Regions from separate parts of the Homo sapiens genome. Here region 1 is linked to region 2. Evidence: fine-mapped expression QTL. A gene starts in region 2. The other region holds a variant in brackets. All regions are shown on one strand. Distances are between the middles of the regions.

What was found. PIP is the estimated chance that this variant, and not a neighbour inherited with it, causes the effect. A credible set is the group of variants that fine-mapping cannot tell apart.
Region 1: its variant is the best candidate, but not a certain one, in a credible set for the expression of PPP1R12A in whole blood (TOPMed, PIP 0.51).

Annotation. Positions count from the first base shown.
Region 1 is chr12:79,970,423-79,973,338 of GRCh38, forward strand. No RefSeq gene overlaps it. Among named protein-coding and RNA genes, the nearest start is that of PPP1R12A-AS1, 37 kb to the left of the region's middle. The variant A/G (reference allele first, on the strand shown) is at 1,421.
Region 2 is chr12:79,933,634-79,936,549 of GRCh38, forward strand. It overlaps PPP1R12A (protein phosphatase 1 regulatory subunit 12A), which reads right to left and starts at 1,464. Exons shown (of 25, transcript NM_002480.3): 1 at 1,062-1,464. The coding sequence starts at 1,298. PPP1R12A-AS1 (PPP1R12A antisense RNA 1) reads left to right here and starts at 1,648. Exons shown (of 2, transcript NR_146535.1): 1 at 1,648-1,921. RefSeq lists enhancers at 284-849, 650-709, 850-1,413, 1,050-1,349, 1,396-1,690 and 1 more and a silencer at 880-969.

The DNA.
Region 1 (2,916 bases), 37 kb after region 2:
ACCCCAGTAATAATGGACAATATTTATAGAAGTACTGTTCTGAACCCTATACGTGAATTAAAATATTTATTTTTCACAATTCTATGAGGTGAGTTCAGCTATTATCTCCATTTTAAAGTGGAGGCTAGTCAGGTGTGATAAAACCAAGTGCCTGTCAGACTACATAGATAGAATAAATGAGGGGCAACAGCTTGTCGTTTCTGCTTTAAATGTATTTTATTTTATTGTATTTTATAAGCTAAAAAGAATAATTTTAAAAATCAAAACAAAAAAGTCATTGAGTAAAACTTATTACATAATACCAGACCCAAATAAGCATACGTCTAGACCAAGGGACTAAATTGTAGCAGTATACGACTAATATGTTAAATGTAAAAAATGAGTAGCTGTTACTCAAAGAAAACAATTGTTCCTTTCCTATGAAGTAGTGTTTCTCAATCTTTTTGATCAGTTTACCTTAAGAAATTAATTTTATGTCACATTTAGTATTCTTACAAATGTATGTGTGTTTATAGATATAAATATTTGCATGAAATAATACAAGCCTTTACTACCTATGGTGCACTCTGATACTTTTTATTCTATTCTATTTCATGTTGTTTACAACATGCTAAGTTGATTTCACAGCCCACTAATGGGTCATGTCCAAGTTAAAAATCTTTGCTATAGAAAACAATTTTTTTGCTGTAGAAAACAACTTTTTCTCCGTAAGAGAAAATGATCATTGGCTCAAGATCATAATTGCATTATAACCCTTAGCATTCTGAGTGATGTAAAGTGTAAAATCTATCAAGTACTGCATATCCAGTTCCTATTATGAAAACTCTGGTAGTAAAAGAAACAGCAACATTTAAATACAATCTATTTCTTTCCTTTGCTGATTAAACTTGCCTCCTTCAGGAGATTAGGGCAGGACAACTCCTTTTAGTAACTCATTGAGGGCAGGAGGAGAATATAGTTTTTTAAATTCTCCCATAATGCCCAGCTCAAGGTAGTGGCTCAATTAAAACTTGCTGCTTTGATTAAACCAATATACTATGGCTATCAAAATATGGGTTATTGGTTACCAACTATGGCTGATTATTGGAATTTTCTGGAAAACCTAAAAAAATACAGAACCTTATTCAGAAAAATTATAATTTTATTTATCCTTTGATCCAGCAATCCTACTTCTAGGAATCAGCTCTGGGGACTGGTTGAATAAACTATGATATTGCCGAATTTTAAATTATTATGCAGTTATTAAAAAATGAGGAAGATCTCCATGATATATGGCTCAGTAAAAAAAAATCAAGGTGCATATGTTCTGTTTACTTTTGCACAAAGAAACACAGGAAGTATAACAAGGAACTAAAAAAAGAAAAGGTTATCCATGGGGTGATTTTTGAAATGGGGTGAAGGGGAAAGGGAATTATGTGAG[A/G]TTTAGAAATCAGGCTGGGCACAGTGGCTCAGGCTTGTAATCCCAGCACTTTGGGAGGCCGAGGTGGGCAGATTGCCTAAGCTCAAGAGTTTGAGACCACCCTGGGCAACATGGTGAAACCCTGTCTCTACTAAAATATAAAAAATCAGCTGAGTGTAGTGGTGGGCTCCTGTAGTCCCATCTACTCTGCAGGTCGAGGCAGGAGAATCGCTTGAACCCAGAAGGTAGAAGTTGCAGTAAGTCGAGATCATGCCACTACACTCCAGCCTGGGTGACAGAGGGAGACTCTGTCTCCAAAAAAAAAAAAAAAAAAGTAATCAATGTATGCCTTTTTATGTAGTTTTGGTTTTGAATCATGTAAATATTTTACATATTAAATAACACAAGATTAATTTCAAACCAAGAATCTCTAAAACTGAAAAGATAAACAAATAAGTCTTGCTATATGTCAAATTGCAAACATAACCACACAGAGAGAAAAAAATATATTTCCAGTGAATGTAATACTCTGTGCATCCTATTGAGATATAATGAAATATAATCTAAAGAGTAAAAAAACTTAAGAAACAAAGAAAAGGCCGGGCATGGAGGCTCACGCCTGTAATCCCAGCACTTTGGGAGGCCGAGGCGAGTGGATCACCTGAGGTTGGGGGTTTGAGACCAGCCTGACCAGCATGGAGAAACCCCATCTCTACTAAAAATACAAAATTAGCCGGGCGTGGTGGTGCATGCCTGTAATCCCAGCTACTCAGGGGACAGAGGCAGGAGAATCGCTTGAACCTGGGAGTTGGAGGTGGCGGTGAGCCGAGATCACGCTGTTGCACTCCAGCCTGGGTAACAAGGTGAAACTCTGTCTCAAAACAAACAAAAAAAGAAACAAAGAAGAAAAACCTTAAGCATCTCTCTGATTTTTATTGTTAGTATAATATTGCTATTATAATTTTTAAACCATTATTGCATATTTTTGGGGAAAATACATAAATATTTAAGGAGACAAGATTTTCAGTGTAAGAAAAGGATAACGTAAGTATGAAATCAAATAACTTACAAAAAAATCATATAATGTTGAGTTTGAATTGGAAATATCTCTGAAGGAACTAGGTTCCCTTAAAGAAATGGCTAATTCAAAGTCTGAGGCAGTTAGGTAAAAATAGAGCCTGCAGTGCCATGGGCCAGAAAGCAAGGAAGTCTTCAAACAAAGGAACTAGCTGGAAGCAGCTTCCATTGACCAAATTTGGAACAAATTAAGCATCTGTAAAGAATAACTAAATGATTATAAAACATTGAATAAATAAAAACCCATGAGTTCTGAGGAGAGAGAGAGAGAAAGAGAGAGGGAAAGAGAGGGAGGGAGGGAGAGAGAGACGGGGCGGGGGAGAGAGAGAGAGAGAGAAACTCATTTGCTACAAGTGGAGGAGACATTTATATCAGCATCTTATTCTGGAATTAGGTAAGAAATTATTTACCATGTCATTTTTTTAAAGAACTGTTGAAAC
Region 2 (2,916 bases):
GTCACCTATTACCGTCACTTAAAAATTGCTTTTTATGCATAACTCTACGTGGTTGTGTTGCTTTTGGCCTGTTAAAGGCAAGGCAACATTATCTCTGGATTGCCAATAGTTTCTCCTTATTTGGCTAACATTGAGAGATCCCAATCAGACTACTATAAAACTTTAATATGCACAAAGCATCCATTTTGAGAAAAGTTTGTGACCAGCTTTCTTTTTTCCCAACCCCAAAAGAAAAACCAGAGCTTGGTAACCGGCTTTGAAAAGAGTGTCCCCTATTTATTCTTCTCTTTCTAACACCAGTGCACACCCGAGGACCTGGGGCTCAAGGATCTCTGACACTGCGGCAAACTTCGAGTATCAGACTCAACACGTTCCGGTCCGGAGGTGGGCAAGCCCTTTAGAGGGCTTCCTTACTCTACCCACTTCCATCCCCTTCCTTTCAGCCGGTGCAGATCAGCTAATTACACCCTGTTTTCCCCTCCCCAGTGACCAAGAGTAATAAATGAGAAAACAGGAAATCGTTCGTTCAGGGCACTCGGCTTAGGGCTCTAGATTACTATTATTATCATCATTTGTAATCAAGTCCTAAAAAGTGCAACAAATCCAATGCCCACCTACAAGTCAAAGATGTTCATCTGCCTAACCGTCCGTAATGCCCCTTGTTAGTTTTCTTCCTTCAGCATCCACCCCTCCGAATATACCACTGACACCGGGGCCCAGGCACAACCCCACTACACCCCTCCTTGTCTCGACCCCAAATCCCAGACTTATCCACGAATGGCCCTGGGGCCCCAAACGACCACAGTTCCTTTTCCCCTATGCCCCGGAAATCACCCGGTTCCCAACTCCACCAGCAACTGTTCTGAAGGGGGGCCTCAAGCCCAGCGCCCTCCCTTCCACCAGCTCTCCCTCCCGCCCTCTGGGGAAACCGCCCCCTCACCCCGCAGCAGGGAGTCTCCCGCCGCCCCCAGCCTCAAGAGGTGGAGAACTGAGGGCAGGCCCGAGCAGGAGGCCGACGAGAACCCTCACGGTCAGGAGAGCCGGCGGCGGGGCGCACAGACCTGGTGCAGGGCAGTGAGTCCGTCCACATTGGCGTAATTGATGTCGGCGCCGCGGTGCAGCAGCTTGAGGACCTCGTCCGTGTCGCCGCTGGAGCAAGCAGCCAGGAAGACGGCGCCATCGTCGAACTTCACCTTGGTCTTCTGGCGCTTCACCACCGGAGGCTCGAGGTCCGTCTCGGAGCCGATCCAGCGTTTCAGCTGCTCGTTCCGCTTCTGCTTCGCGTCCGCCATCTTCATCCCCTCTCCTGCCGCCGGGTCTTCTTATCGCGAGGGGGGGAAGGGGGAGGCGGAGAGGGAAGAGAGGGGAGGCAGGGGGTGTGTGAATGTTTCTATGAGTGCGGGCCAGAGGAGGGCTGGGAACCCGGAGCCGACGCTCGAGACTTCCAGTATCCCACAGAGCACTGGGGCGGCGCACCCGGCCGAGCGGACCTCCCTTCCTACCACAGAAGCCCTCCCGCCCCCAGCACGGCCACCCGTCACCGGCGGCCAATCTAACGTAACTTCGCGAGATCCGGACTGGGAGGCGCCCTTCGACCAGTGCGCATGCGCCCTGGGCCTGTGCCCGCCCCAGGAAGAGCGCTCCCGCGAACTGCGGCGGTGGTGGCTGGGCCACCAGAGGGAAGCGGGTGTGGCCCAGGCAGCGGGGGCTGGGACAGACCTGGAAAGGAGGAAGCGGGGAAGGAAGGTTGTCCTGTCGGGCTGGGGGCTCCCGGGAATCCGGAGGCCAGCAGTGGAACCGCAAGGCTCTACAGGGCAGATCTGCCTCCCGTGCTGTCTCAGCTACGCCGAGTCGTTGGCTCAGGGCGGAGGATTTTCCTATTGGCCGCGTTATTTGAATGGAATGGAGGATAGGTCGTGAAGTAGGTGCTGCTGGTTGATCTTTCTAAGGAACTCAGATGAACTTGGGCATGTCAGAATTAATAACCTTTTAAAAGTGGGGTCTGTGTGGCCGAGGGTTTTAATGGTAAGTTCTTGAGGTGACCACCTATTGACAAGGGTTGACCTGCTGTAATTGCTGTGGCTTCCTGCCAACCCCCACTTTAGAAATGTTTTTCTTCCTCTCTTTACTTGTTTTGTTTTGCTTTCTCTCACGCTTGGGTTCTCTTCTTTCTTCCTTCAGTGCTTTAAGCCTGTCTCGTACTACCCATGAGCTTAGCTCAGCCTGATTACTGGTCCTTACCTTTTAAGGGATTTCTGGTTACAGCTCCATCTCTTTCTAAGGAGGGGTAAAGACCTAGCTGCGTCTAGCATTTAAACGGAACGTTAAGGAAGGCAATTAATTCAACCACTATTTATTGAATACCTACTATGAGCCAGTAACTGTACTAGGCACTGAAGATACAATGAAAAATATGACATTTATTTGAACCACCTCTTGAGTTCAGTCGCCCAAACAAGACTAATTTATCATCGTCATAAAAAAAAGACTTTAACTTTGCCTTGTATGACCACACGCGCACACACATAGGATTTGTAATACTGATGTCTTATGAGCCATCTATCTACAATCTCCACCAATTGATTTTACTGAACACTGCATTGTTACCATCCACTACTATTTTTAGAGCATTTAGAAAAGCCAAGATAAAAACCACAAAACCTTACCATGGAAGTTTAGGGGTCATCTAGACAGAGTCCCTCAAGAACTAATTAATTTACTTAATTTTACCCAGAAGTAGGATTAGAATTCACTCAGCAAATACTATGCACCTGTTCTGGGTCAGGCATTGTTCTAGGTGCTGGAGATAGAGCAGTGAACAAATAAGCTTTTCTTACTCTCAGCATGATGCCTTTTCCAGTGGACTACTTCACAGCCTATCATATTGAGAAATAAAATAATTGAGTAAAACGTGAT